Linked DNA regions of Homo sapiens. The protein of the gene in region 2 interacts with the protein of the main gene of each other region in a pairwise test. Each region holds a gene or a part of one and is shown on either strand. Other genes may lie near its edges. The genes, in order: ZRSR2, SDCBP2, ARF4 and SREK1IP1.

Region 1 (8,356 bases), on a different chromosome or scaffold from region 2:
ACATATGAGTGAAAAACCAATATAACCTGAAAGTCCATCAGTAGAGAACTATAAATTATAAATGAATAAACTATGAATAGCAAATAAATTATGCTACATCTGTACAGTGGGTACTGTATTGCCACTGAAATGGCTGAATTAGATCCCTGCATCAGTACTGAAATAAATGCACTATATATTTAGCAAGAAAGCAATTTATAGAAAAATATGTATAAATATCATGCCATTATAGAAAGACACACGTAAAGTACATTTACACTTTCTTTTTCTCTTTCTTAACAGTGGCTATCTTTGGGTGTGTTGCAATTATTAAAGTCTTTTCCCTTTTTACATTTGTTAATTTTTTTTGTTTTTTTTCTGTTTTCAAAAACAATTACAGGTCAGGCGCAGTGGCTCATGCCTATAATCCCAGCACTTTGGGAGGCTGAGGCAGGCGGATCACTTGATCACAAGAGATCAAGACCACCCTGGCCGACATGGTGAAACCCTGTCTCTACTAAAAATACAAAAATTAGCTGGGTGTGGTGGTGCACACCTGTTGTCCCAGCTACTCGGAAGGCTGAGGCAGGAGAATCGCTTGAACCCGGGAGGCGGAGATTGCAGTGAGCTGAGATCATGCCACTGCACTCCAGCCTGGCAACAGAGCGAGACTCCGTCTAAAAAAAAAAAAAAAAAAAAGAAAGAAAAAAAATTATAAATTAGCAAAAACAGAAGAAAAGTACTTCCATTTTTAAAAAAAATAACATCTAGTTTTAGCCCATCAACTACAGATTTAAATACTTTATACAGGATATTTTATAAGACCTATTTGGTACAAGATTTTATACAGAAGACTGGTACTGGTTAGTAAAGGTTGATAATATTCCAATAAAATAACTTCATTCACTTTAAGTGTTTCAATTAGCACTGACCTCTCTCTTTCCAATAGCTTCTCTTCTTCTAGTTGTTGTTCTTCAATAAAAGTGTCCTCCTCTTCCTCCTTCTGTGAGAGTCCTAGGGAATTTAAATGTTTTATTAAACTGAGTGCTGCAAATCCTTGGTCAAAAATTCAGGAAAAAAATACATGTAATCTTTAATGTATAAAATTATGGTAAAAATCTTTTTCTTAAACTTTCTAACAAAAAGGTCTCTGATCAACCTTCTTTGGTACAACACAAGCATCAAAAAGGACAATAGGGGTGGCAGATAGCACATTACATTTAAAAATTAATCAATGGTTCCACAATTATACTTAAAAAGGAAATTAGCTTGGCATGGTGGCAGGCACCTGTAATCCCAGCTACTCGGGAAGCTGAGGCAGGAGAATCACTTGAACCCAGGAGGTGGAGGTTTCAGTGAGCCAAGATCGTGCCATTGCACTACAGCCTGGGCGACAAGAGTGAAACTCCATCTCAAAAAAAAAAAAAAAAAAGGTGGTGGGGGTGTGGAAGGGAACATCCATCTTCACAGAAGAATGGTAACTAAAAAATGGAGAAAAACTTAAGTAGAAAAATCATCACTTTTGCAACCCCCACTGTAAAAATTTAGACAAAGACATTAAAAACATCGAATGAAAGCTTGCTAGGAAGAGTATATTCACACTATCTCAACATATCACCCCAGACATGAGGACTAATTAGAAAAGAAAAAATGCAATGCTTTCCAATGGAGCGATCTGGACACTTTTTTTTTTTTTTTTTGAGACGGGAGTCTTGCTCTGTCGCCAGGCTGGAGTGCAATGGCGCGATCTTGGCTCACTGCAACCTCCGCCTCCTGGGTTCAAGCGATTCTCCTGCCTCAGCTTCCCAAGTAGCTGGGACTACAGGCGCGCGCCACCATGCCCAGCTAATTTTTGTATTTTTAGTGGAGACGGGGTTTCACCACATTGGCCAGGATGGTCTCAATCTCCTGACCTCGTGATCCGCCTGCCTCGGCCTCCCAAAGTGCTGGGATTACAGGCATGAGCCAGCATGTCCGGCCCTGGGTGGGTAACACCTTAACCACAGTTAGCATCACCGGGAGTGCAACAACCTGATGTGAAAGGTCTCATGATGTATGCAATAAGAAGTTTACAACATCTGCTCTGTAATCCTTTGTTCTAAAGAGTGTTGTTACCTGAAGTTAATCATGAGAAGACAGAACAATCCAGAATACAGGGCATTCCACAAGATAACTGGCTTGAGTTTTTCAAAACAATCAATCCTGGTTTGGGGAAGTTTAAATATGGCCTGTATATGATACCATTGAATTACTTGCTCATGTACTCAGGTGCAAGTTTGGTATTGTGGTTCTGCGGGAGAATGTCCTTATTCTTAGGAGTTGCAAGCTGAAGAATTTAGGGGTGAGGTGCTGCTATCTGCAACTGCCATCCAAAAGGTTCAGAAAAAATGTTCTATGTATGTATCTCTTTAAATAGAGAAAAAGAAAGAAAGGCCAAACTTTAACAACTGGCAAATCTTGCTGAAGGGTTCATGGATATTTATTGTGCTCTTTTTTTCAACTTTCTGTAGATTAGAACATTTCCCAAATAAAAACATGAAAAAACAACTTTTAATAGAATAGACATTTACATCCTCTCCCATTCAAAATTTGGGAAAAAAATCAGTGAAAGTGGAAGAGAAATGGAAGACTGAAATAATCTTAAAGAAATGTTACAGATGTCAGGCTTAAAGAAAAAAGAGTCTGTTTGTCACATGTGTTGAGTACAGTTCTAACTGAAGGCTCATCCAGTCTTAGATAATTACAATAATTTACTTTTCTTAAGTAAGTAAACTTTATTATTTCAGCAGCTGGAATTAAAATGGGCAACAAATGTAGAATAAGTTCTCAATCATATAAAATAGTATCTAATTGTTCAGATAATTAAATGATCTAATGTACTTAAAGCGCCAGAGAACCTGGCACAGAGGATATGGCCTGACTACTTGCAGAGGTATGCCATAGATTAGACAGGGCATAGACACAGCTGACACTCACAAACACCTGTTGACTGACTCACTCAACTCCCCATCACCTCGAAACCAAGCTCATATACTCCACAGAAGTGATTGCTAACAGTTCTGGGTACAGCATTTTCCCCACGTGTACAATCGGACATATGCAATACATATACATACAATACAGCTGACCCTTGAACAACACAGGTTTGAACCACCTTGGTCTATTTAAATACAGATTTTTTTTCAGTAAACACACTGGAACATTTAGGGGATATTTGCAACAATTTGAAAAAAAAAATAGGTAAGTGGCATGGCCTAGAAACACTGAAAAAAATTAAGAAAAAGGTATGTCATGAATGCATAAAATATATGTACATACTAGTCTATTTTATCATTTGCTACCATAAATATAAATCTATTATAAAACGTTAATGCAGAGCTGGGCGTGGTGGCTCATGCCTGGAATCCCAGCACTTTGGGAGGCCAAGGCGGGCGGATCACCTGAGGTCAGGAGTTCGAGACCAGCCTGGCCAACATGGTGAACCCCATCTCTACTAAAAATACAAAAATTAGCCGGGCGTGGTGGCAGCCCCCCGTAATCCCAGCTACTCGGGAGGCTGAGGGAGGAGAATTGCTTGAACCCGGGAGGTGGAGGTTGCAGTGAGTCAAGATCGCGCCACTGCACTCCAGCCTGGGAAACAAGAGCAAAACACCGTCTCAAAAAAAAAAAAAAAAAAAGTTAATGCAGATACTGTTAAGCAATATTGTGCTGGCTTGAGCAGCACATATACAGATACTGTTACAATATAAGTTAAGTGTTTTATTGTTTCCTTGCTTAAAGCATTTGAAACAGGCCAGGGAGCGGTGGCTCATGCCTGTAATCCTAGCACTTTCGGAGGCCGAGGTGGACGGATTACTTGAGGTCAGGAGATCGAGACCAGCCTGGCCAACATGGCGAAACCCCATCTCTACTAAAAATAAAAAAATTAGCCAGGTGTGGTGGTGCACGCCTGTAATCCCAGCTACTCAGGAAGCTGAGGCAGGAGAATTGCTTGAAACTGGGAAGCAGAGGTTGCAGTGAGCCGAAATTGCACCACTGCACCCTAGCCTGGGCGACAGAGCGAGACTCTGTCTCAAAAAAAAAAAAAAAAAAAAAAAAAAACGATTTGAAACAAAATGATCTCTGACTTCATTCCATTCTAAGACAGAGAAGTTCGGTCTCAAACATTTTTCCTTGAATATTACTATAAAAGTTGTGCTACAACATAATCATTGACAACTTTTTTTAAAGTTAAAATTTATCAAAACTTATATTTATAGACCATATATGGCACATTCACAGTTGAGAAAAATGTAAACAAACATAAATATGCAGTATTAAATCATAACTGCATGAAATTAACTGTAGTACAAAACAAGGAAAAAAACGCATCCAATGAGGTACAGAAGGAAGAAAAAAATTAACTGTAGTACACACTGCACTACTGCAATAATTTCATAGCCACCTCCTGCTGCTATTGCAGTGAGCTCAAATACTATGAGTATTCACTTAAAACACCTTGTGACACTACTCATCTCTGCATGAGCAGTTCATCTCTTCAGTAAATTGTGTATGGCAGTAAGAAGTGATCTCTGGCGTATTTTTCACTGTGTTTACTACAAAATGGTAAACCTTGAATAACATCATGAGACTCACACAAAGTGCGACTAGCGATGCTGGAAGTGCTCTCAAGAAGCAGAGAAAAGTCATGATGGCCGGGCGCGGTGGTGCGTGTCTGTAATCCCAACTACTCTGGAGGCTGAGGCAGGAGAATTGCTTCAACCCGGGAGGCGGAGGTTGCAGTGAGCCGAGTTCATGCCACTGCACTCCAGCCTGGGCGACAGAGCAAGACTCCATCTCAAAAAAAAAAACAAAAAACAAAAAAGAAAATCACTGAGGAGAAAGGATATCTGCGTGAATAGGACGCCCAGCTACTTTTTGTATTTTTAGCAGAGACAGGGTTTCACCATGTTGGCCAGGCTGCCCTCGAAGTCCCGACCTCGTGATCCACCCGCCTTGGCCTCCCAAAGTGCTAGGACTCCAGGCGTGAGCCACTGCGCCTGGCCTGAACAGGTTTTTAATGCAGATGAAAGTATCCTATTCTAGAAAAACACCACAAAGGACATTTAGTAGGAAGAGAAGCAAGCAGCAGGATTGAAAACAAAAAGAGACAGGCTAACTCTACTGTTTCATGAAAACGTAGTGGGGTTTATGATCAGAACTGCCCTTATCTATAAAGCTGCTAACCCCCACCCCCAATCCTTGAAGGGAAAAGATCAGCACCAGCTGCCTGTCTTTTGGTTGTACAACTAGAAGGCCTGGACAATGGAAATCCTTTTTTCTGAATTGGTTCCACTGATGCTTTGTCCCTGAAGTCAGGAAGTACCTTGCCAATAAGGAACTGGATTTTAAAATTATTTTAATATTGGACAATGCCCCTGGCCACCCAGAACCCCATGAGTTCAACACTGAAGGTGTCAAAGTGGTCTACTTGCCCCCAAACACAATGTTTCTAATTCAGCCTCTAGACCAGGGGGTCGTAAGAACCTCTAAAGCTCATTACACGTGGTACTCTACGGAAAGGATTGTCAATGCTATGGGAGAGAACCCTAATACAGAGAGTATCAAGAAAGTGTGTAAAGATTATACCATTGAAGATGCTATTGTTGTTATAGAAAAAGCCATGAAAATCATCAAGCCCAAAACAAAGTCCTGCTGGAGAAAAAAATGTGTCCAGATATTGTGCATGGCATCATTGGACTTAAGACAGAGCCAATCAAGGAAATCGTGAAAGAGATTGTAAATATGGGGGGGGGGGAAAAGTGCAGGGGGGTCGGGGTGAAGGGTCTCAAGATATCTTGAAGAAATTCAAGAGCTAACAGACACACCAGAGTAGTTAACAAAAGCCAATTTGATGGGGATGAGTCCTTCCAAACCAGTGCAAGGTGATGAGGAAGAAAACTGAGGTGAAGCAGTGCCAGAAAACAAATTGACACTAGACAATCTGGCAGAAGGGCCAATTATTCAAGACTGCTTTTGACTTCTTTTATGGACCCTTCTATACTGAAAACTAATGCATTTAAACTAAAGCAAGTGGTGGAAGAATTGGTACTGTATAGAAACATTTTTAGAGAAATGAAAAAGCAAAAATGTCAGACAGAAATTATAATGTATTTCTGCAAAGTTACACCAAGTGCCGTCTACCCTCTTGCCTTCCCTTCTACCTCCTCCACCTCTTCCACCTCTGCCACCCAAGAGAGCAAGACCAAATCATCCTCTTCCTCCTCGGCCTACTCAACATTAAGACAAGGAGAATGAAGACCTTTATGATGAACCACTTCCATTTAATGAAGGGCAAATATATTTTCTCCTCCTCGGGATTTTCTTAGTAACATTCTTTTCTCTAGCTTACTTTATTATAAGAATATGGTATATAATACATATAACATACAAAGTATGTGTTAATCAACTGTTTATGTTATTGGTAAGGCTTAGAGTCAACAGCAGGCACTTAATAGTAAGTTTTGGGGGAGTGAAAAGTTATATGCAAATTTTCCACTGTGGGGAGGGGCGGGGGGCGGTCAGAGTCCCCTAACTCCCACATTGTTCAAGGATCAAATGTATATCCAATGGTATTATACAGGTTGAGCACCCCAAATCCAAAAATGAGAAATATTTTGAGTGACAACAATGCTCAAAGGAAATGCTCATTGGAGCATTTCGAATTTTGGATCTTTGGATTTGGGATGCTGAACTGGTAAATACAACGCAAGCATTTCAGATAAGGGATACTCAACCTGTACATGTAACTGTACACACAGAATCATGCTATAGTTTTGCAACTTGCTTTTAATATCTTAATTTCTGACGAGGTAGCTTGTTTCCAGTTATCTGAAGTAGAATGGATGCCAAAGAAGCTATCTGTAATTAAGAGCTCACTATTCCAGAAATCATTTGCCAAGGCACTCCAATCATTTGCCAAGGCACTCTCATAGTTACACTCAACATTCTAGCCTTCTGGGTAATGTTTACCCATCTAACGTGTGCTACAATAAACAGCAGTGTTCCTGGCCGGGCGCAGTGGCTCACGCCTGTAATCCCAGCACTTTGGGAGGCCAAGGTGGGCAGATCACCTGAGATCAGGAGTTTGAGACCAGCCTGGCCAACATGGTGAAACCCCATCTCTACAAAAGTACAAGAATTAGCCGGGCATGATAGTGGGTACCTGTAATCCCAGCTACTCAGGAGGCTGAGGCAGAAGAATCACTTGAACCTGGGAGGCAGAGGTTACAGTGAGCCTAGATCGTGCCATTGCACTCCAGCCTGGGCGAGAGAGTGAGACTCTGTCTCAAAAAAAAAAACCAGGAGTGTTCCATAGTCTACAGTATTCATGAAGTACCACTAGGCAAAGAATTGTGAGTTGGAGTGGGCAAAAGTAGGAGCAGAAGTGCAGAGACAGGTGCTTAGTCTTGGATATGCCATTAGTTACATAATCTTGACAGACCAGTGACCTGGATTTAGTCCATTAAAATGGGCTAAACTACCATGGGACATGACTCGCCTGACTCTCCACAGAGGCTCATTCTGAACACATTTTGCTAAGTAAAAAGGAAAAAAAAAATCAAAACAATACAAATACCAGCTGTTATAGGATTTAGTGCAGGAAAAGAAAAAGAGAAAGAAGTTAAAACAAATTTAGAATATATAATATTTAGAATAAAACAGATTAAATGAACAAAGTAAAGTAGCTGAAAATTTCAAGGGGGGAGAGACGAAGTACAATAAGGGCCTCAATAACTCCAACCTATTCTACTTTTCCTTTTATCCCTGATGCTTTGTTCTGCCTCTAGTGGATGAGTTTTCAACTAATAAGACAGAAATGCTAACACAGGTTGCAGTTAAACACACTGCTCCTTCCATTCTAAATATCCCAGTACTGACACTAAAATAATTACTCAGGAACACCAATGGTAAATAAAACCTCTATGGCTATGTTTCTCAAGGTCCAAGAATCCTAGTTACTTGAGGCCATGGTCTCTGGATTTTAAGAATTGTCTAGGATAATTTCATGAGCATATTCTGGATAATGCGGATGACAATCATTATAAGCCAGTACTACTGTGTGATTTCAGTGCTCCCATCTGGATTTATAACTACTACATAATTTTATAACTAAGTCCTAATTTTATTGCATTAAGCAGGTAGATTTAATACATAAATGTTAGGTTTTGCCATGTGAAGGTCAAATGACCATCTGTACAAATAAAGGTTCTACAGTAATTTCATAGAAAAAGTGGTAAATAACTATAAGGCAACATTAGTAGAGGCATTCCAAACTCCCATCAGTGCCATATACATATTGTGAGGAGCATTAGTTTCACATCATCCCTAGCATTAC
Region 2 (8,356 bases):
CATTTCAGCACCATTCTGGTGATCCAATCTCATGTGACCCCGGGAATGAAATACCACACTTGTCAGACTTCCTTGCTGGAACTATGGCTGGCCTGGGGTGGGGGCAGGTGGGGAAGAAGTGGACGGCAGATAGCGGCTCAAAGAGAGAAGGGGCCAGAACCCCACTTGCCTTATTCAGCTTAGGCTTCCATAACAAAATACCATAGGCTGGATGACTTCAACAGCAGAAATGTATATTCCCACAGCTCTGGAGGCTGGAAGCCCAAGATCAAGGTTCTGGCCAATTCAGTTTCTGGTGAGGCCTCCCTTCCTGGCTTGCAGATGGCCACCCTCTGGCTGAGTCCTTACATGGCCTTTCCTCAGTGTACTTGCTTAAAAGAGAGAGAGAAAACGAGAACACGAGAGAGATACAGCATGAGAGCGCATGCATGAGCCCTCTGTTGTCTCTTCTTATAAGGACACAAATCCTTATAAGAAGGGATTAGGACCCTGCCAGTCCTGGTGGGAACCATTCGCTGAGGGATGCAGAGGTTTCTGGGTGTCAAATAAAGTCAGTGGAGTTGAATAGCAAAGTGGTGCATGAGGACTCGGTGTCCTACCCTGCACCTGGGCCCTCTGAGGAGCGCTCATCAGTGAGTGTTCCTGGGGATACCCCACAGTCTTGGAAATAAATACCATTCCCAGGCTCCATTTCTTAATAAAAATGAGCAGCCACAGGGGAGCCAGGCAGGCATAGGGAAGCACATGTCCTCTAATGACACATTTATTCTTCCTTCTTTCCCTATCAGTTTTGTACCCAAACTTGGCAGAACTGGAAAATTATATGGGTCTTTCCCTCTCCAGCCAAGAAGTCCAGGAGAGCCTGCTTCAGATTCCAGAGGGTGACAGTGTATGTATTTGGCTTCTGCCTGCTGCGGGCGCAGAACCTCCCAATCCTCCCTTTTTCCTGGTCTTGCCATTTCAACAGACCTTCTTTCTCTCTGTGCTCGGACCTCCCCTCTCCCCAGCACTCTGCTGGCTCTGTTTCTTGATGGCACCGTTCATTTTGAGGCTTCACGAAAACCACTGTGGGCTTTCATGGTTTCAGATCTTCCCACAAGCCTTGGGGATGGAGAACCAGGGCTTGCCCTTTGACCTTGGGCCTGAGCTGGATGAGAAGGGAGGTCATTAAGCCCAGCGTGAACCTGGGGACATCAAAAGCAGGGCTGCCTGCATGGATAAACAGAGCCGAGAGGGCAGGAGCTCGTCACCCAACTCTGGTCCCCAAATTAAACAACAAGGCTCAATTCCTGCTTTCCATGGCTTCGGGGAGCAAAAGACACCATCACAGAAATATATGCCACTGAAAACATATTTACCTGTAGAACCAGTCCCCGCCTAAGCCCCTTGCCAGTTAGCTCTAGCATCCCTGCGTCCCACCTGTCAGTCTTCCTGCCAGGCTCGTCCTGAGCCGATGAAACTGAAAGTACAAACTGCAAAGTTGTCTAAGGCTGGGGAATTTCATGAAGTTCATGGATATGATGATAGAGAACTGTCACAGACACATACAAAGCCACTGCCAAAACGAGGATCTGACAGGAGGAAATCCACAAGGATGAGGCCATGTGGGACCCTGAGAAGAACTGATGGCACCCTGGGGTGTTTCTCCACAGTGGCCCCCTTCATGGTCGTGCTGTGAAAGGCAGACATGAAGCAAAGAAGGTCCTTCTGTAGGCAGCCCCACTGTCATCACTCTTTGTTCCTATAATTAAGACATAAATGCATTCAACCGTAATTTTGATAAAATATAAGATGATGAATACATTTTTATAATTTAAAATTTTGTATGTCTTTTAACTTTTTATTGTTAAACAGTAGATTCCCAGGAAGATGCAAAGTGAGTACAGAGAAGTTGTTAGTACCCTTCACCCAGTTTCCTCAATGCTTATGTTTTCCATAGCTATAGTACACTATCAAAACCAGGAGTCTTACGCGAGTACAGTGTGTCTCTAGTTCTATGTCATTTCATCAGTGTGTAGATTCATGTAACCAGTACTGCAATCCATACAGAACTAGTTCATCACCACAACCACCTCCCTCCCAGGCTGCTTCTGTATAGTTATGCCTGCCTGCTTGCCACCCTCCCTAACCCCTGGCATCCGGCCCTCTGTTTTCCATCTCTATAATTTTGTCATTTCAGAATGTTACATAAGTGGAATCGTACAGTATGTGACCATTTGAGGTTGGCTTTTTTCACTCAGCACAATACCCTCTAGATCCATCCAGGCTGTTGTGTGTGTCAATAATAGTTCATTCCTTCTTACTGCTGAGTAGTATTCCATGATGTGAATGTACCAGGGTTTGTTTAACCTGTTGAAGAATAGCTAAGTTGTTCCCAGTTTTTGGTGGTTACAAACAAAGTTATTCTTATACAGGTTTTTGTATAGACATACGTTTTCATTTCTCTAGGATAAATGCCCAAAGTGCAATTGCTAGGCTGTATGACAAATGTATGTTTAAGTTTTTTAAAGAAACTGCCACCAGGTGTGGTGGTGCATGCCTGTAATCCCAGTACTTTGGGAAGCTGAGACAGGTGGATCACTTGAGCCCAGAAGTTCGAGACCAGCCTGGGCAGCATGGTGAAATCCTATCTCTACAAAAAATACAAAAATTAGCCAGGTATGGTGGCTTGTGCCTGTAGCCCCAGCTACTCAGGAGGCTGAGGCAGGAGGATTGCTTGAGCCCAGGAGGTGGAAGCTGCAGTGAGCCAAGATCACAGCACTGCACTCCAGCCTGGGTGACAGAGTGAGACCCTGTCTCAAAAAGAAACTGCCAAACTAGTTCCTGGAGTGGCTATACCATTTTATTTTGCCGTGAGCAATACATGAGTGCTCCAGTTTCTTCATGTCTTCACCAGAATTTGGTATTATTACTATTTTATATTTTAGCCACTATGATAGGTATAATGATGGCTCATCATGGTCTTAATTTGCATTTCCCTGGCACCTGATGATGTGGACCATCTTTCCATGTGCTTATTACCATCTGTATATTCTTTCCGGTAAAATGTTTCTTCATATATTTTACTCATTTTCTAAATGGCTTGTTTTCTTCTTCTTGTTTTTTGAGACAGGGTCTTGCTCTATTGTCCAGGCTGCAGTGCAGTGGTGCGATCACGGGTCACTGCAGCCTCCACCTCCCGGGTCAGGTGATCCACCCACCTCAGCCTCCCGAGTAGCTGGGACCACAGGTGCACACCACCATGCCCAGCTAATTTCTTTTATTATTGTTATTTTTATTTTTTGCAGAGACAAGGTCTTGCTATGTTGGCCAGGCTGGGGCTTGTCTGTAGTGTTTTGGGAGTTCTTTGTGTATTCTAAAGTCCTTTGTCAGATGTGTGGTTTATGTTTTCTCTCAGTCTGTAGCTTAACAGTTCTGAATTTTGATGAGGTCCAGTTTATTGATTTTTTTTTCTTTTGTGGCTCATACTTTGTAAAGAAATATTTACCTAGCCCTAAGTCCGAAAGATTTTCTCCTTCGTATTCTTCTAAAATGGTTATAGTTTTATGTTTTGCGTTTACGTTTATGATTGAATTTGGGTTAATTTTTTTGTAAGGAGTTAGGTTTCAGTCAAAGTTCATATTTTTGCCATGGTTGCACCATTTGCTTTTTTTGTTGTTTTGTTTGTTTGTTTGTTTTGAGATGGGGTCTCACTCTGTCACCCAGGCTGGAGTGCAGTGACATGATCTTGGCTCACTGCAACCTCCGCCTCCTGGGCTCAAGCGATCCTCCCATCTCAGCCTCCTGCGTATCTGGGACCACAGGCACGTTCCAGCACACCTGGCTAATTTTTGTATTTTTGTAGAGATGAGGTTTCACCCTGTTGCCCAGGCTGGTCTTGAACTCCTGACCTCAGCTGATCTCCCTGTGTTGTCCTCCCAAAGTGCTGAGATTACAGGCATGAGCCACTGCGCCCAGCCAACACCATTTGTTGAAAGCACTCTTGCAAAAAGCAGTTGACTTTACTCATTTGAGGCTATTTCTGGATTTTCTACTTTGTTCCACTGATACTTGTCTATCCCTTCACCAGTACCACACTGTCTTGATTATTGTAGCTATATATAATAAGTCTTGAAATTTGGTGGTGATTCCTCTCGCTATTCTTTTTGTCAGAATTGTTTTAGCTATTCTAAATTCCTTTGTCTTTTCATATAAAGTTTAGACTAACCTTCCCTGGATCTGCAAAACATCTTGTAGAGATTTTGATAGAAATGGTGTTATATCTGTATATCAATTTGGTGGCAATTGACAGCTTTACTAATTCTTTCAACACGTGAATACAGAGAATCTTCCATTTATTTAGGTCTTCTTTGATATCTTTTATCAGTATTTTGTTGTTTTCAGCATACGGTTCCTGTATGTGTTTTGTTAGATTTACACGTATTTCTTTTTGTTGTTCTTGTTTTTAGGTTTTATTTTGCTTCGTTTTTGTTTTTAACAGAGATGGGGGTCTTGCTTTGTTGCCCAGGCTGGTCTTGAACTCCTGGCCTCAAGTGGTCCTCCGGCCTTGGTCTCCCAAAATGCTGGGATTACAGGAGTGAGCCACTGAGCTCGGCCTCTTTTTTTTTTTTTTTTTTTGAGTGATTGTAAGTGGTATTGTATTGTATTCCTTTTCTTTTCTTTTCCTTTCTTTTCTTTTCCTTTCCTTTCCTTTCCTTTTTTTTTTTTTTTTTTTTTTTGAGGTGGAGTCTTGCTCTGTCACCTAGGCTGGACTGAGCAGTGGCTCAGTCTTGGCTCACTGCAACCTCCACCTCCTGGGTTCATGTAATTCTCCTGCCTCAGCCACCTGAGTAGCAGGGACTACAGGTGCTTGCCACCAGCCCAGCCAATTTTTGTATTTTTAGTAGAGAGGAGGTTTCAACAGTTGCCCAGGCTAGTCTTGAACTCCTGGGCTCAAGTGATCCATCTTCCTCGGCCTCCCAAAGTGCTGGGACTACAGGCATGAGCCACCACGCCCAGCCTGGTGTTGTATTTTAAATTTCAGTTTACATGTGTTCGTTGTTAGTATACAGAAGTACAATTGAATCTTGTGTGTTAATTTTGTATCCCAGGACCTTGCTAAACTCTTTTATTTGGTCTAGGAGTTTATTTGTAGATTCTTTGGGATTTTCTAGTAGACCATCGTGCCATCTATAAATAGGAACCGTTTTATTTCTTCTCTTCTGATCTGTGTGACTCCCCCTCTTTTCTTGCCTACTGTGCTGGCTAGGTCTTCCAGTACCATCTTTAATAGTGTTGGGAGAGTGAAGTTCCTTGCCTTTTTCTGCATCATGAATTTGTATATTTTTACATTTTTCTCAAGACAAAAATCCAGTCCTTTTATCCCCTGTTGCTCACTATTTACTGTGACTTTTTCTATTTTAAGTGGGTTTTAAAGGAGGCTTTTCCTGATGCCAGTTTCCCTTGGGAAATGAAGGGCCTCTTCCTGTATCCTCGCCCCTTCCCTCCCCGTTTTCCTGGCTTTTTAAGGGCATGGACTTTGACGCCCCCTAGTGGCCGCGTGGAGCCACGTCTCCTCTCGCCCCTAGGGGAGAAGCGTGGACTGGGGACGTGGGGGGACCCGGGGACGGCTCCATCCTCCTTTCCCCATCCCTACCCCCACCCCAGTGTCTCCTGAGGCACAGGGTCCCCACGGGCCGGGCTGACCCCCTGCCCCCTGGTGTCTGCAGACAGCGGTCTCGGGCCCCGGGCCCGGCCAGATGGTGGCACCGGTAACCGGGTACAGCCTGGGCGTGCGGCGAGCTGAGATCAAGCCCGGGGTGCGCGAGATCCACCTGTGCAAGGACGAGCGCGGCAAGACCGGGCTGAGGCTGCGGAAGGTCGACCAGGTAGGGCGCGGGGGCTGGGTGGGAAGAGGAGCTCGAGCTGCACGCGCTCTCCCGCCAGGCCTCAGAGCTCAGAGGGCCCGTCCACAGTAAGGAAGGTGCAGAGCGGGCCTCCTAACCCCAGCGGCCAGGCTCTTGCCCCCAGTCCCTCCTCCCCGAGACCCGGGCGGGGCTGGTGCTGGGTTGCGCAGGGCCCTCCACTGGCCTCTCCGTGGGCTTCCGTCGCTCGGAGGAGCCTCCCTTCCCCACCTGCCCTTCGCTGCCCAGGGCATCTAGCTTCCAGGCGACGGTGTAGACAGCCGACGCCAGGGAAGCCCATGCCTTTGTGAATGGTACAGTGGAGTGTTTCGGAGTGCAGCCCCAGGCCAGGGTTGAAATCCTGACTCACCTGCTTCCTAACTATGAGGCCTAGAGTGTTTCCTCCCCGGTAAATGGGGTAACCTTGGTGCCTGCCATGCAGAGCTGTGTCCCTGGCACCCTGTAGGTTCCTGGAGTATCAGGAGGAAAACAACAGGTTGGAAGAGGGATCTGTGCCTAGGGTGGGCCAGGGACACTGACTCTGGGGCCCTGCCTCCCCCAGGGGCTCTTTGTGCAGTTGGTCCAGGCCAACACCCCTGCATCCCTTGTGGGGCTGCGCTTTGGGGACCAGCTCCTGCAGATTGACGGGCGTGACTGTGCTGGGTGGAGCTCGCACAAAGCCCATCAGGTGGTGAAGAAGGCATCAGGCGATAAGATTGTCGTGGTGGTTCGGGACAGGTGAGTAGCCAGGCCCGGGCAGCCTCTCCGTCTCACCCCAGCCATGTCCCCAGGACAGCTCACTGTCCCTCCTGCCAGGCCGTTCCAGCGGACTGTCACCATGCACAAGGACAGCATGGGCCACGTCGGCTTCGTGATCAAGAAGGGGAAGATTGTCTCTCTGGTCAAAGGGAGTTCTGCGGCCCGCAACGGGCTCCTCACCAACCACTACGTGTGTGAGGTGGACGGGCAGAATGTTATCGGGCTGAAGGTAGGCTGGTGGCCGCACCAGGGAGGGACTGCCGGGTGGTGGGAGGGCTCAGGTCTTTGGGCAGCTTGCTTACCCCACCTGAGCCTCAGCATCCTCTTCCTAAGGTTGCTGTGAGGGTTCAGTAAGACGGTGTTCGTAGGGCTGGGTGCGGTGACTCACGTCTGTAATCCCAGTGCTTTGAGAGGCCAAAGCAGGAGGATCACTAAGTCCAGGAGCACGAGACCAGCCTGGGCAATGTGAAACCCTCTTTCCACAAAAAAAACTAAAAAATTAGCCAAGCGTGGTGGTGCACACCTGTAGTCCTAGCTACTCAGGAGGCTGAGGTGGGAGGACTAATTGAGCCTGGGAGGTCAAGGATGCAGTGAGCTATGATCATGCCACTGCACTCCAGCCTGGGCAACAGAGAGAGACCCTGTCTCCAAAAAAAAAAAAAAAAGACAGTGTACCTAGAGCTCTGAGCACAGTGCCAGGCACATAGCAGGTGCTTAATACATAATAGCTATTGCTGGCTGCATGGACACCTCCTTGCTCTGTATGGCACTTTTTTTGGTATAGTGGATCATGTTCAGTAGTTTAGGAATGTTTTAGAAAATCGTTATTCAGAAATCCATGGGGTCGTGAGGTTCTTCAGAACTGGGTTTGTCCCAGCCAGCCACACTTCTTGAGATCGTTTGTCTTTTCAAAGTTTATTTCCACCTGTGGCCATCACTAGTCCTGTCTAGCACATCTTCTCACATTTATTTTCGAACAACCAAGAAAACACATAACCAGATAACATACATGTGTAATGTAAAGGTCAATAGGCTCTGAGTGAGGGCCAGAGGCTCTTCTATGGCCATAACGTTAGTGTTTGGACCACCTGGCACGCTTTGCGTAGAGACTTTTAATTTCTTGTTCTTCCCATGATCTAAGTGGTGTCTGCAGGCCCATCTCTTTTTATCAAACAAGCAAATGTAAGAGGATGTAAGAGGAGGAGGATCCTTATGGCCCTGGAGGCAGCAGGAGCCAGAGGGTGGATGGGTACGCCTAGTACCTCCCACAGGATGGGGAGGCATTTATGCTTTGAGGCCAGAACCCAAATGTGACTGTGGGCTTGGTGAGTCTCTGGGAGCCCTTGGAAGGGGGAGGAGAATCGCATTGATGAGGCCCTGTTACGCGTCAGGCTCACACCGCTGGCCTTCAAGCTGAGGGTGGGAAGAGGCATGCTCATTTGACCAAGGAGATCCTCAGGTGGGAGACCCATGTTCTCACTCAAGCAAGACCTTACCTGGGAGTCTGCTGGGACCCTCATCTGACAGGCTCGGGGTCCGAGGCAGCCCTGCCCTGCAGTCAGCCATCAGTGGTGTCCTCTAGCAGTGGCCATGCTGATCCCTCCACAGAGGGGCCTGTAGAGTTGCCCCTGGTCCCCAATCCTTAGGGTGATCGCTTACTTGCCTCCTCCCTAGGACAAAAAGATCATGGAGATTCTGGCCACGGCTGGGAACGT
Region 3 (8,356 bases), on a different chromosome or scaffold from region 2:
TGGGGGACAAAAGGAGACCTTGCCTCTTTTTTGAAAAAAAGAAGAAACAAAAAAATGGAAGGTTTGGTTCTAAAAAGGAGTAGCTTTTGAAATATGGAAAGGAGGAGACATATTTGCTAAATAAATGCCCATGATAAGCCAAGAACAATGATCTTTTATATCTCTGTGATTGCATTTAATCTTTAACAAGCTTATGAAGTTAGTATTTTTATTTTATTTAGACGAGGCATAGTCAAGGATTAGATAATATATATAACAAGTAGTATAAGATTTGAATTTGAGTCTGTCTTCCCACCACACTATATTGGCTCCCAAAGCATCAAACATTATTTTTTGTTTTTGAGATGGGGTCTCACTCTGTTACCCAGGCTAGAGTGCAGTGGCATGATCATGGCTCACTGTAGCTTCAGTCAACCTCCTGGGCTCATGTGATCCTCCCTTCTCAGCTTCCTAAGTAGCTAGGACTATAGACATGTGCCACCATGCCCTACTAAAATTTTAATTTTTTTCGTAGAGACAGGGTCTTACTCTGCCCAGGGTGATCTTGAACTCCTGACTTCATGTGATCCTCCCACCCCAGCCTCCCAAAGTGGTGGGATTAGAGGTGCCATGCCAGCCAAAAGTTTTCTCAAAGGATAGGATATTTAAAGTGATGGTTTTCCAGGTGGTATAGATGCAGTGTAAAATAAAATTTAAAAATTAAGTTATGGTTTCCAACAGAGATAAAGGAAATGGACTTACAATTTGCTAAAACAAAGGAAATTGTCATTTAATGGATGTAAAATAAGTGTTAGATGCTCCTGGAGAGCCCAGTACTGTGGTAATCCTGAGAGGTAAACAGAAAATGATGTAGGATGGGGCTGGGCGCGGTGGCTCACACCTGTAATCCCAGCACTTTGGGAGGCCAAAGCAGGCAGATCACCTGAGGTCAGGAGTTCAAGACTAACCTGGCCAACATAGTAAAATCTCATCTCTACTAAAAATACAAAAATTAGCCAGGTGTAATGGTGGGCGCCTGTAATCTCAGCTACTCAGGAGGCTGAGGCAGGAGAATTATTTGAAACTGGGAGGAGGGGTTTGCAGTGAGCTGAGATGGCACCACTGCACTCCAGCCTGGGTGAAAAAAAAGATATAGTATAGTCCTTTGCCCTTAGTGGATGTAATCTAGTTCCTTTTTTTTTTTTTTTTTTTTGAGATGTAGTTTGCTCTTGTCGCCCAGGCTGGAGTGCAATGGCGCCATCTCGGCTCACTGCAGCCTCCGCCTGCCAAGTAGCTGGGATTACAGGTGTGCCACCATGCCCGGCTAATTTTTGTATTTTTAGTAGAGATGGGGTTTCACCAGGCTGATCTCGAACTCCTGATCTCAGGTGATCCACCTGCCTCGGCCTCCCAGAATGCTGGGATTACAGGCGAAAGCCACCTCAACCAGCCTCGTTACTTACATAAATCAGTAGTGCAAGACAATCTGTTATAAGTGACATGATCAAAATTGATACTTTAGGAGTCAAGGTTTATCTTTTTTTCTTTTTTATTATTTTTATTTTTGCCCCCCCCCTTTTCTAGCTGAAAATTCTATACTTTCCCATTTGAAAGTTCTTAGAAAAACAGTTCAACTAGTTGCTTCCTAATTCCTTCCATTTATTTTGTAGTATAGAATTCTAATAATGGGCCAGGTGCCATGGCTCATGCCTGTAATCCCAACACTTTGGGAGGCCAAGATGGGTGGATCACTTGAGTCCAGGAGTTCGAGACCACATGGGCAACGTGGTGAAACCCCATCTCTACAAAAAATAGAAAAATTAGCTAGGTGTGGTGGCACGCACCTGTAGTCCCAGCTACTTGGGAGGCTGAGGCGGGAGGATCATTTGAGCCCAGGGGGTCAAGGCTGCAGTGAGCCAAGATTGTGCTACTGTGCTCCTAGGCAACAGAGTTGAGACCCTGTCTGAGAAAAGAAGCTAATATTTGTATCTCTAAGAATTGATAACTACCTTCCTTTTTTTAAAGAATGTCTTACTCGATCAGGTAAATCTTGAATTTTTCTTTCTTTTTTTTTTTAAGAGATAGGGTTTTGACATATTGTCCTGGCTGGTCTCAAACTGCTGGGCTCCAGTGATCCTCCTGCCTTGGCTTCCCATAGTGCTGGGATTACAGGAGTGAGCCACTGCGCCCAGTCTTGGATTTTTCTTGCTATCATTTTCTTAAGATGTCTTCCTGATCTAGAGTTGGCAGGCAGCATTCTGAAGCAAGTTAATTTTTTCCTTCCATGATGAAGCAGATAAAAACTGTAGTGTACACACTCGCGCTATCCCACCCCCCTTTTATTACTCTGTACATGCCTTTGAGTCAGTAAGCTAATTCAGTTAGTAAATTCATGGGGTTTTTTTGTTTGTTTTTTGAGATAGGGTCTCGCTCTGCCACCCAGGCTGCAGTGCAGTGGTGCGATTTCAGCTCCCTGCAACCTCCGTCTCGGGCTCGTGATTCCTCCCACCTCATCTCCCAAGTAGCTGGGACTAAAGGCATGCACCACCACACCTGGCTAATTTTTGTATTTTTTTGTAGAGATGACCTTTCGCCATGTTGCCCAGGCTGGTCTCAAACTCCTGAGTTCAAGCAATTTCAGGCCTGATCGTTTGCCTCAGCCTCCCAAAGTGCTGGGATTACAGGATGAGCCACCATGCCTGGCCAAATTCACGATTCTTTAGGATCCTTGATTTGTTATTTTTCTTTTTGTTCCTACTTTGTGGCTATTTTGGTACCTGCACTTAAATGTGAGAGTGCAGAGGGAAGGGGAAAAATAGATACAATTTATTCTTAGGGTAGTTGAGAAAAGTAATTAATTGGTGAAGAATAAAAATTTTTTAGATTTGAAATAGCACTAATAAATTAAACTTACAAATAGTTCTCAAATCAGCTTTTAGCATTACAGCCTTAAGTTCTTACTTTTAAAGAGACATTTTCTTCCTAATGTCTAACCATTGGTACCATTTTGCTGCCTACACTGTTTCATATAGAGAGTGTCGTTTAACTGTTAAAATTTACTGAAACAATTTTTCCCCAGGGTCTTATTTTTGTGGTAGATAGCAACGATCGTGAAAGAATTCAGGAAGTAGCAGATGAGCTGCAGAAAATGGTAAGAAATATACTTTAAATTCATCATTTTCAAGGTGTGCTTTTCTGGATTAAACTGGTGGTGGTTTAGTACATTTTGACTATGATTAGATTACACAAATGGATTGGGGGGGCTAGAAATAAACTTAAGAAACTATATTATCCACAGGTTCTTAATAATGTACTTCAAAATCTCTTATAGAGCGTTTTAAAAAACACATGGAAGAGTAGCTACTTCAGTAAGTTGGGAGGAAGGCAGAGCAGTGTTGTTTTTTTTTTTTTTAGAATGCCTCATGGGTAATCTTGATGCCTATCTCTGGCTGAGGATATCTGATTTAGCTCAGTCCCTTACTTTACAGATATCAAATCTATAGTGCTGTAGTGGTTTTGACCCTAGGAATCTTGGTTCAGATGTTTTGTTCCCAAGGTCATCGGTTCCATTTTCTCTATGCTGTGCCAATAATTACTTCAGAAATGTTTTTTAATAGTAACCATTTAAGGATAAGGAATTCCTTCTGAAAGTAGAGACAAATGTTTGGTTCACAGTGGCATTTTGCAGCCTTCCCATAGATTGGATTAATGTTTTCATGTGTTCATGTTGTTAAATGTACTAAATGGAGGAAGACTGCTGAGAATCCTTGTCATGATTTTAAACTTGTAGCCATAAAATATTTACTGAAATGAAATCTTAATTCTTGTTCATTCCTCCTAAGATTAGAGGGCAGTTTGTAAAACCATTGTGCCAGTATATGTGTAACTAAGTCATTGTTGGATTTTTGCCTGAGTCAAATGTCACCAGCTTTCCCTCTTCAAAAAAAAAAAAAAAAAAAAAAGCTTGGTTGAGACATACTTCACACACTATAAATGTCATCCTTTTTAAATGTGCATATCAATGGCTTTTAGCATACATAGTTGTACAACCATCATCACAATCTAATACTAGAAAATTTTCATCACCCTCAAAGAAATCTTGGACCATTAGCAGTCATTCCCATTTCCTTCCTCTCGTACACCACACTCCCAGCCTCTGACAGCCACTAATTTGTCTTTATACAGTCACCTATTCTGGACATTCATATAAATGAAAACATACAATGTGTTCTTTTGTGACTGATTTTTTCACTTAGCATAATTTTTCAGGGTTCGTCTATATTGCATCATGCATCAGTACAACTTCTGTTCTTGGTACTTTTTTTTTGTATATTTCATGATACTGCCAACACCCAGATAATTGTGTTATTGTCCCACTGTTGTTGGAAAGGATAGAAGTCCGAAAAGAATCATCATCTATCTAAGTACTTCTGCTACTAAGTACCATAAGAACCTGCCATAAACATTTTATTCCCACATGTATTTCTTGCCCTTATCAGTCCTGACAATGGGTAATCATGAAGGCTGAATGATGAGTGATTTGCTTTAATTTAATGGGGTGTAGGATGATTGACTTGGAAAACAGTTCTGTCTTATTTGAAGGCATATGATTGTTTGCTCTGGATTTAAAAACTGAAGGATATGAGACTTCAGTTGTAAGAGTGAACTTTGTGTCGAGAAATTAGGTTAATGTTTAATAATGTATTTAATGCTGAGTAAAGTATATATAGGAAGACATTTTCAAAAATTGGATTCCGGTTGGTAGTTGTTAATGCCTTACCTTTTATTTCCAGCTTCTGGTAGATGAATTGAGAGATGCAGTGCTGCTACTTTTTGCAAACAAACAGGATTTGCCAAATGCTATGGCCATCAGTGAAATGACAGATAAACTAGGGCTTCAGTCTCTTCGTAACAGAACAGTAAGTATTTGGAGGTTGATATTAACCTCTTGACTATTAAGACTTACTAGGATAGTTGTGTAAGCTAATATTCAGTTTAAACATTTATTATCTCCTTTGGACAAATAATGAGCACATCATTTATTTAAAAATATGGTAATAAACTTTAAATACCTTATTTGATTTTTGTAAAGAAACGGAAAACTACTGTAGAATAGGTCTAAAGATTATTGATAGTTTCTTTTTTCTTTTTTTTTTTTTTTGAAGGGAGAGGTGGAAGGAATGGAAAGAAGATTATTGATAGTCTTAATTTTAATTTTGTATCTTTTAAGTAACCCTACAGCAAATATTTTGAAATCTGGCTTTCTTATTAAGGGTCCAGTAATGTTTGTTTGCTTGTTTTAAAAGTGGAGATGGGGGGCTGGGTGCGGTGGCTCATGCCTGTAATCCCAACACTTTGGGAGGCCTAGGTGAGCAGATCATCTGAGGTCGGGAGTTTGAGACCAGCCGGACCAACCAGGGAGAAACCCTGTCTCTACTAAAAATACAAAATTAGCCAGGTGTGGTTGCGCATGCCTGTAATCCCAGCTACTCAGGAAGGCTGAGGCAGGAGAATCACTTGAACCCAGGAGGTGGAGGTTGCGGTGAGTCGCGATCGCGCCACTGCACTCCAGCCTGGGCAACAAGAGCGAAACTCGGTCTCAAAAAAAAAGTGGAGATGGGGGGTCTCGCTTTGTTGCTAGGCTGGTCTTGAACTCCTGGACTCAAGCAATCCTCTCACTATCTCAGCCTACCAAAGCGCTGGGATTCCAGCCATGGTGCCCAGCCTTGTTTGCTTGTTAACATAACAGTTTATGGAGGAGACCAGGTACCACGGCTCACACCCGTAATCCCAATACTTTGGGAACCCAAGGCAGGAGGATTGCTTGAGGCCAGGAGTTCCAAACCAGCCCGGGCAACAAAGTGAAACCCTATCTCTACAAAAATAAAAATTAGCTGGGTGTGGTGGCATGTGCCTTTAGTCCCAGCTACTTGGGAGGCTGAGGTGGGAGGACTGTTTGAACCCAGAAGTTGGAGGCTGCAGAGAGCTGTGATTGTGCCCATTGCACCCCAGCCTGGGTGACAGAGCAAGACTGTTTCTTTAAAAAAAAAAAAAAAAATTTGTACTTCTCTAAAATTGCTTATCATTGATCAGTGATTCAGTGATGGAGATAAATTATCAGAAACTTAGTGTCATAGGCTTTTTACAGTAGTTTTGCATTAACCTGTAAATAAGGGAAATACTGTGGCTGTGGTAAAAAATGAAACAAACAACAAAGAACCTATTGCAGGCCGGGTGCAGTGGCTCACGCCTGTAATCCCAGCACTTTAGGAGGCTGAGGTGGGTGGATCATGAGGTCAGGAATTCAAGACCAACATGGCCAAGATGATGAAACCCCATCTCTACTAAAAACTACAAAAAAATTAGGTGCAGTGGCAGGCATCTGCAAGCCCAGCTACTCTGGAGGCTGAGGCAGGAGAATCACTTGAACCCAGGCAGCAGAGGTTGCAGTGAGCCGAGATCACGCCACTGCACTCCAGCCTGGGTGACAGAGCGAGACTCCGTCTCAAAACAAACAAACAAACAAAAAAAAACAACCTATTGCCTGTTTGAGATATCTCAGGCTGATTTGAAGAACATAAACTGGGCCGGGTGTGGTGGCTCACACCTGTAATCCCAGCACTTTGGGAGGCGAAGGTGGGCGGATCACTTGAGACCAGGAGTTCGAGACCAGCCTGGGCAACATGGTAAAACTCTGTCTCTACTAAAATTACAAAAATTAGCTGGTCGTGGTGGTGCATGTGTGTAACCCCAGCTACTTGGGAGGCTGAAGGCACGAGAATCTCTTGAGCCTGTGAGGCGGAGGTTGTAGTGAGCCGAGATCACGCCACTGCACTCCAGTCTGGGCAAGAGTGAGTACTCTGCCTCAAAACAATCAGTCGATCAATCAATAAATAAGCAAGCAACACTAACTGTAAATGATACAAGTTTTCCATGCTGTGAAGGTATGAATTTGAGCCTTTCCCCAGCCTCCTAGGTTACTGAGATTTGGTATTCAAATAATTGGCAACATGGTATACCTGCAGTGGCCTTGCAACATTAAACTGGTCAAAAAAATTAATAAAAGTAAACTATGCCTTAAATGTAAATTGTTTTCTAGGTTTTTTTTGATACTTTCACACAGTTACTAGAGATAAGATTCGTTGCCATTTAAAAGCAAGAACGTTTTGGAATGCATGAGACTAAAGATGGTGAAATTGTCTGAAAAGCTTGCCCTTAAAATATCAACAAACCCTACTCTTTCTTTCTTTCTTTTTTTTTTTTTTGAGATGGAGTCTTGCTCTGTCACCCAGGCTGGAGTGCTGTGGCACGATCTCGGCTCACTGCAAGCTCTGCCTTCTGGGTTCATGCCATTCTCCTGCCTCAGCCTCCTGAGTAGCTGGGACTACAGGCGCCCACCACCACGCCCGGCTAATTTTTTGTATTTTTAGTAGAGACAGGGTTTCACTGCGTTAGCCAGGAAGGTCTCGATCTCCTGACCTCATGATCCATCCGCCTCAGCCTCCCAAAGTGCTGGGATTACAGGTGTGAGCCACCACGCCCGGCCTAACAAACCCTACTCTTTCAAAAATTTGCCTCTTCTACTTTGAGTTTAGTTTTATGGGAAACGAGAGTTATAAAAACCAGATGGGTAGTTTATTAGTTACTAATTTCCCCATGATTTCTTTTTTCAGATTAAGTGGTAGAAAGTTTACTAAAAGGGAACCAAAAACCAGCACTGAAAAGAAAGCTGAATGAGGGGGGAAAATCTTGTCTAAATATAATGAATAGGTAGAAGTAGCTTGATTGATTGAGACGGAGTCTCACTCTGTCGCCCAGGCTGGAGTGCAGTGGCACAGCCTCGGCTCACTGCAACCTCCAGAATAGGTAGAAGTGGCTTTATTTTTAAAAAATAATTTAATCTAAAAAAGTAGAGACAAAGTCTCACCATGTTACCCAGGCTGGTCTCGAACTACTAAGCTCAAGTGATCCTCCCATCTCCGCCTCCCAAAGTGCTGGGATTTATAGGTGTGAGCCACCACGCCCAGCCAGAAGTAGCTTTAAATATGGGAGAGTTTTGTGAGATGCAAGAGGTGTGAAAAGACTCTTAAGTTTGATTAAGAAAGTTTAAACACTGGTGTTATATATTAACTTTGTTAATCAAGTATTTTCTTGTCTTCTCTTTACAGTGGTATGTTCAAGCCACTTGTGCAACACAAGGAACTGGTCTGTATGAAGGACTTGACTGGCTGTCAAATGAGCTTTCAAAACGTTAAATGAAATTGGATATCTAACCAAGGACATGTTTGATAAAATTGGTCTAGGCTTGTTACAACAAAATTAGTTTGTATCTTGGTTATTAAACAGTATCTGGGACTGGTTTGGGCAGAATATTAAA
Region 4 (7,400 bases), on a different chromosome or scaffold from region 2:
AAACAGAATAGTGGTAGCAGTGAAGATGGTGAGAAGTGGTCTGATTCTGAATGTATTTTAAAAGTATAGTCAACAAGGATTTCTGATGGATTGCATGTAGGGTGAGAGAAAAGAGAGGCATCAAGGACCAGAGGTTTTTGGCCACTGGACTGTGGATTTAGCAACATGGAGGTAATTAGTAATGGTGAAGTAGCAGGGAGTAAAAAAGAATGGTGTCCTGGAAGCCAAGGAAATAACTGGATCAACTGCTGCTAAGAAATCAAAGAAGATGAGAATGAACTGGACTGTGCATTTAGCAACACTGAGGTCATTAGTAATGTCTGTGATTTCTTCCACTGTTCTTTACGTATTTATGTTATTTTCTATTGGTGAAATGATACATTAATTATTTCTACAATCATTCAACTTTTCCTAACACTGTTCATTGAATAATCCATTTCTTTGCTATGTTTGTTTAGACTAACTTCTGATCAGCAAAGATCCATATTCCTTCACCTTTGCTCATTTTGGACTCATATTTATATGGAGTGAGTGAATGGGATTGTGGCACTACTGTGTCCTTTTAATAAACCACATCTAAATCAGTTATAATGGCAAAGCCTTAAGGTTGGGCAAGTTACTATGATTGGCTTTAGTGTAGTTTATGCATAGGAGAGGGACAGTCACACTTTTGTTAAGTCACTCAGAAATTGTTACCTTCTTATCAGATGTGTAGTTATTTTCCTCATGGAAGCATGGAGGAAAAAAGGTAAGCATGGAAATAAATTTTTTTATTACTGAATTATTTCCCTTATTTGACTTTCATAAGGAAATACTCAAAAACCACTTCAAAATAACTCAATTCTCACTCATACACATAGCATTTTCAGGACATCATATTTTCAATATTGCTACAAAAATTATTTTTAAGTGCAAATTTTTATAAGTGAAACGATGTCATAATTTCAAATAATTATTTTGTTTTGTGTATCTGCAGGCAAGTCAAATGGAAAAACCAAAGCCCTCAATTCAAATGCAGCATCAAATGCAACAAATGAAACATACTATGAAGCTGATGATATAATTCAAGAAAAAACAATGGATGCAACACAAATCCACATTGCTTATTAACTAAAAATTCTGTGTTTTAAATGCTTACTGGAGAGATGGGACAATAAAAATAAAGCGTGCACTTGAAACGGTTTGTAATATTGCTTTTCAAAAATTCGTCACTCACAAAGCAAGACACAGCTGCATTTTTGATCATTCAGTTACTTTATTAAACGCACATTAAGGTTTTATTGGTTTTCCTTTGTATAAATTTATTTGCTAATTAAGATGTTTCTGTATCACATGAGATTATGCTAATTATTCAGGAGAAATTAAATAATTTATCAATAACAAGATAAGCAGTCCTATCTCAGTGAAGAACAGTGAGAAGTTTATGTCACATTACCAGCATTTCTCAACTTTCTGATACTTACAGGCAGTTATTCTTATGAGATGGTACTGGATAGGTAAATATCAAGGGAACTGTCTTAAAAACTAGAGGTGACTTGTTCTTAAATCTCTTAGAAGTCAACCCACATCTTTTTAGATTTTTCTGGGCACAAACAATATACTCAGTAACAAAAAAATCACAATGTATAATCTGTACAATAAATATTTTGTTTCAAGAGATAAGCATAACAAAAAATCCTTTGCTGATATATTTCCTAAATAATCTGTATAATGAAAGCTACAAAACAAATGAGTTCTCTGGTCCCACCTAATGCTATCACATTAATACCACCTAGAAATCTAGAAATAAAACTAATTTCTGCAAATTATAATTTTTAAAGATTTTTATTCATAAGTGTGTTTTCTATTATAACACAGACCTGGTTTTGTAACAGAATTCAACAGAAAAAAAAAGGGAATTATTTTAAGCAGCTCTACTGAGCATATCTACTATGTCCTGTAGTTTTTGTAGTCAGAAACTAGCATTTCAGACAAGATCTGGCACATTTAGGGTGGTATGGCCATAGCCAAAAACTAGCATTTCAAAATGTGCTGAATACAGCTTCTCTGGTCTGATATATAAAAAAGAATACCTTATTTTTCTTGGGCATGCAAAGCTCAGGGTTACAAACTTTTCGTCATTAGCCTGTCAAAATTTCTACCAAGTACTAAGGTTATCTTCTAGACCAGAATTAAGAGAAGTTTCTGTGATGATGGAAATGTTCTTTCTATATCTGCACTAATATGGTAGCCACCAGTCACATGTGGCTACTGAACACTTAAGATGTGGCTAATGCAACTGAAAAAATAAAATTTTTCATTTATTTAATTAATTTAAATAACCCTATGTGGCTATACTGGCACCATAGTGCCAGATCACTATTGCAACAACCTACTGCCAAAGTTGAACTTCACATTCAAAAATACAATTTTGCAAAGGTTTAAATACTAAAATTGCTTAAAGTATATGTTAAGTTTGAAAATTAAGACATTTCCATTATAAAAATGACATTTTACACGGCCATAAAAACAAAGAATTTTCACTTATTTTTTGTGAAAGTTTATAAAGCTTTTATGGGTGCTTCTTGATCTTTGATACAACTTTGATTTTAAAGTATCCCAGAAAATTTGCTATCTTTACAGTAATTTAATAATATTACCATATTGTCTCAGGTGAAAATCTAGGTTGAGAAAAATTTAGTTAAGGCACTGGCACCATTCTACTTTTGTTGCTCATGGCCAAGGACTATAAATGGCACAAGAAGCAAGAAACAGACAGAGCTAGCAAAATGCTCACTGCCCCAACTCCTCCCAATTTGTGGGAAAGGCATAGTGGGGTCAGGCATGACTGGATGCATCATGGGTTGTGCTATAGAAGAGGCACCCCAATTCTCTGCCACTCTACCTATTTTTAGAGGAGTTGGGAGGAGATACTGAGATCAGAAGACTGGCCTTCGCAACTGGGATTATTGTCACACTGGTATAAGAAACCTACTGTTCTTGGGCACCCAATGTCCAGGAAGTTTTGGTCTCAGCACTAGGATCAGCTGGAGTCCTTGAAGCACTCCCTGCTGAGCTAGCTTATCACTAGGTTACCTGAGGTAGAACCACAGGGCTCATCCAGTGGACCAACTGGTATGTTTCTCTGTAACTCTGAAGCAGTTGTGCTTCACAGGTTAAGCCAAATTTTAAAAGCAAGGGGCCTTATTAAATTACAGCACATTTTGTACACTGAAAAATATTCTAAATGGTTTATTCGGACCTAACAAATATTAAAATAGTGATAGAATTTAAGTCAGTCAAAAATAACCTAAAATACAATTAAGAACAAAACACATCTCAAAGTATGTACATGTACATATAACTCTGGGGATGGATCTAATAAAGAATACAGTAGCTTTATGTGTTTTTAGATGATTTAGGTTACTGTGTAATTTTTGGAAATAATAATGAGACTGTAGAAAGAAATGTGAGTCTAATAATAGAGCCTAAAATAATCAAATTATATTTTATGTAGCCTTCTAATGAAAGCAATTTCATCTTTTAAAAATGGTGGGATTAATCGGATTATGAAATTGATAAAACCAAACCCTAATAAAAGTCATTTCCTTCCTTAAAATCTTTTTTTTTTTTTGAGATAGAGTCTCGCTCTGTCGCCCAGGCTGGAGTACAGTGGTGTGATCTCAGCTTACTGCAACTTCCACCTCCTGGGTTTGAGCGATTCTCCTGCCCCAGACTCCAGAGTAGCTGGGAATACAGGTGCCTGTCACCACGTCCGGCTAATTTTTCTATTTTTAGTAGAGACAGGGTTTCGCCAAGTTGGCCAGGCTGGTCTTGAACTCCTGACCTCAGGTGATCCGCCCGCCTCAGCCTCCCAAAGTGCTGGGATTACAGGCGTGAGCCACTGTGCCCGGCCCCCCTTGAAACTCTTTAATGGTGTCTCATTGCTTACACATTACAGTTCAAGCTCCCAAACACGGAACACACGACTCCTTCCTCCTGTTCCTAAGAACTTAAAATGGTAGTCTCAATTCTTACCACTTCCTGCCTCGCCTATGATACACCAGCAACACCAGATTGCTTGTAATTCTTGACAAACACATAACACAGCTTGTTCTACCTCTGGTGTTTGTTCACAGTACCCACTCTGTCAGGAACTGCCATAACCCTCATTCTTATCCTTAATCAAATTGCAATTCAGTCACTACTTTCTCTAGGTAGCCTCTTCTAATTTATCCAGACTACTTTAGGTAACCCCGAGTTTCTATAAACTCATGTTCATGTCAATTACTGCACTAATTATATAACGGTGTATGCTCTGGTGTTTCTCCTACCAACTACACTGTGAAGTCCTTCAGGGAGGCAAATGTGTCTTACTTATCTCTGTATCCCCAGTACTTAGCACAGCGTTTGCCACGTTAGGTACTCAATAAATATTTGTTGAAGAAAGGATTCAATGGCATTTTTATCAACATTATTAACAACTCTTCAGCCTAGTTTACTCTGAAGGTAAACTAGGGTTATATAATTTTAGATACAGTTGTAAATACAAACACATATAGTTGTTTTACTTCTCATTTATTGTTGTTTTGACCTCAGAGAGTCAAAGATGTAAATGGAGATGTATATTAAGTATGAAGAAATAGGGATACCTCTGAGAAATATCAACCAACATATGATATGCAAAAAAAAAAAAGGGGGAAATTGTGTGGTGAGAAGGTCCATCAACCCAAAAATAATGGCCATAAAGTGCCAGATAATCTAGTTCCAGATGCAAACCTAAATATAAATTCTGCCTGCATTTGGTGAAAATGACATGCATTAGGTTGTAAGAATATGAACCAAATATCAATTATCTGCTTGAAGAAGTTGAACGTGTTTATTATATTAATAAATTCAACCTTTACTATTATAGAATGTTATAATAATTTCTAAAGTGAATATTGCTTGAATTTTAAAATATTGATAATTATATATATTAAACCTTGAAGTGATTTCAGAGATAATCTGGTACAATATTTTATAGACGAAAGACACCAAGGCCCAGGGAAACTAAGTGACTTTGTTCAAGATCATACAGGTAGTTAGAATGACCAGGACTGTTTTACTGCTAAATTCAGTTTTCCTTCTGGTACATACTGCCTGGGAGGGAATTTCATTAATTTTCTTCTAAAACATATTCATGAGATTTGCATCCAATCTCAATAATAATATCATATTAGAAGAAAATTACTTCAGTGAAAATAAATTTTTATTCAATTTCATAAACTATGCTAAAATTATGGGAAATTTACTTAGAAATGCCAACATCATTTCTGGGGGGAAAATTACTGATCATTAAAATATTTTAATTTGCATACTACATTAGTTAACGAGGACTGACTTTTGCTCTTCTCAGTCATTATTGTGTCACCATTCAGAAACCTAATGAGCCAATTTATAATCTCTACAATTAACAGTAATAAAACTTACAAGTAATTAACTATTTCACTACAATTACTATCATTTTTAACTATCTTACTCAATGGAATAAGGTCATTGCCTTTGTAGCATTTTCTAATTATTTTTTAATATTTTATTTTACTGTTATTTTTTCAAGGCTAGTCAAGTCAAGCAGTGGGAGTAAAGAAACACCACTGCACTTGTGCCAGCCTCGTTTTTAAAAAAGCTTTATATTAAAAACCGATTTTTAAAATCTTGATAATCGAAGAATATTTTCAAAAAACTAGCAGCAAAGGCAAAACAAATCCCTAAAAACCTACTGGCTCTGTATTTTTTCTCCCAGTAACTGACTGACCTATTTAAACAAAAGCATTTCCTTTTGAGAGGCCCAAATGACTAAATTAGGTTATGGAAGGGTTGAAAGCGTGAGAGCTCTCATGGCTGCAATGCAGAGGGCTGTGGATACAGCTTCCCTAGAATTTAAGCATGGGTAAGCATATGTTAAGAGGAGTTATAAGGCTCCCTGAGTCTTACTGAGGGTATCCACATTGGGTGCCAGGTGAAACAAGAATCAGTAAACCTTTCTAGCCTGTGAGGTTAAGTATACTTAGCTGATTTCACTATCATGAATTCACCTGCAGCCGTATCTATAGGTTATCAATTTGAAAATTTCTAAGCGCACCATAGTGAGGTATTTGCAATCTTTGGTGCTGTGCCATGACATTGGTTGATGTTCGATGCTTCTACAACATAAGCATTTACTTTAGTGGACATAAGGGCTACCTAAGTATTAAGCAAAGTAACACTGATCAATGTGAAAATAGAAATTTAAAAAACGTATCTACTAATATGTGTTTGAAAATGCTTACCCATATAAAATTTCCATTATTATACAAAGGCTTTCATGATGCAACTCCCTGGCTCTTAAATTTTAAAAAGTACAGAATAAAATTCTCAATTCTTTTTTTGACACTTTTTACTCTTGAGTTTGCCACTAAAGTAAAAGAGAGAAACATCCCAAACTGGTCATTTATGAAAACGTTAAGTTCAGTGTGAAACTTGCTTTAAAACTACAAATTATGTCAGACAAAATAAATATATATGCTCACATTTATAAAATTTTCCACAGTACTCATAGAAACAAGCTTCATAAAATTTATACTGAATACAATAAAAATCAGTTCTAATAAAGATTTAGCTATCTTCCTAAATAAAAATTTCTGTGTTTGAGGTATCACTGTAAGACATGCCAATATGGCACATTTGTAAAACAACCCAGGAGTCTATTCTAAAAATCACAACCAACTCAGCATCATCTCTGCAGACTTACTAACAGGCTGAACTAATCTCTTTATACAAGAAGTATTTTAATTATTACAAAAACAAAGGAGGCAGGTACTAGAAATTCTGCATTTCATAGAAGAGTAAAACTTTGTTAGAGATATTTTCATGATCATCTACCTGCAGACACCATTCATTTAAAAAGTCCTAGTCAAGACCATTAAGCAGCTGCATCTTCTACAACATTGAAAAAAAATCCCTAGAGATTTAAAAAACTGAAGAATTTCACTATCTTTAAAAGATATTATATTTTAGTACATAAAGCTATTAAATTTCTCTGTGTCAAGAGCAAAACATTACCCCTTACCTTGCTTCATCATTGGAAGGTGGACACCTGATCCAGCAATACTCATTAACTGCTAGGTAGATGACCCATGTTGATGGCAGTAAAGCCATTTTACAATGAACTTATGAAGTAGTAACACTAGCCAAACACACAGAGACACAAATACCAAAAATGATGTGTTTAGTATACACAAATAGCTATACTTGGGGCATGGCTATCAAGTAACAAGACTGATTTAATACTTTACAGTTACAGCACATTAAAAATATATTGCCAGAGGGATAATGGTCCCAAATACGAAAAATGTCTATATGGAAAAGGCTGTGATTTATTGCAAAGCATAATATATAGC

Evidence for each region.
Region 1: the proteins of SDCBP2 (region 2) and ZRSR2 interact in binary tests that used the Homo sapiens proteins (3 or more experiments, as listed by UniProt).
Region 3: the proteins of SDCBP2 (region 2) and ARF4 interact in binary tests that used the Homo sapiens proteins (3 or more experiments, as listed by UniProt).
Region 4: the proteins of SDCBP2 (region 2) and SREK1IP1 interact in binary tests that used the Homo sapiens proteins (3 or more experiments, as listed by UniProt).

What each region holds. Positions count from the first base shown.
Region 1 is NC_000023.11:15,792,509-15,800,864, reverse strand, and holds part of ZRSR2 (U2 small nuclear ribonucleoprotein auxiliary factor 35 kDa subunit-related protein 2), read right to left. Parts: exon of another isoform or gene 4,816-8,356; coding exon of another isoform or gene 4,615-4,815; intron 994-4,614; coding exon 912-993; intron 1-911. UniProt on the Homo sapiens protein: Pre-mRNA-binding protein required for splicing of both U2- and U12-type introns. Selectively interacts with the 3'-splice site of U2- and U12-type pre-mRNAs and promotes different steps in U2 and U12 intron splicing.
Region 2 is NC_000020.11:1,310,851-1,319,206, reverse strand, and holds part of SDCBP2 (syntenin-2), read left to right. Parts: intron 1-788; coding exon 789-889; intron 890-5,533; exon of another isoform or gene 5,534-5,708; coding exon 5,709-5,867; intron 5,868-6,444; coding exon 6,445-6,620; intron 6,621-6,698; coding exon 6,699-6,870; intron 6,871-8,315; coding exon 8,316-8,356.
Region 3 is NC_000003.12:57,572,090-57,580,445, reverse strand, and holds part of ARF4 (ADP-ribosylation factor 4), read left to right. Parts: intron 1-3,058; coding exon 3,059-3,130; intron 3,131-4,772; coding exon 4,773-4,898; intron 4,899-8,147; coding exon 8,148-8,234; 3' UTR 8,235-8,356.
Region 4 is NC_000005.10:64,716,913-64,724,312, forward strand, and holds the end of SREK1IP1 (protein SREK1IP1), read right to left. Parts: 3' UTR 1,236-7,400; downstream 1-1,235. Other genes in the region: SHISAL2B (protein shisa-like-2B), read left to right, coding at 977-1,110. UniProt on the Homo sapiens protein: Possible splicing regulator involved in the control of cellular survival.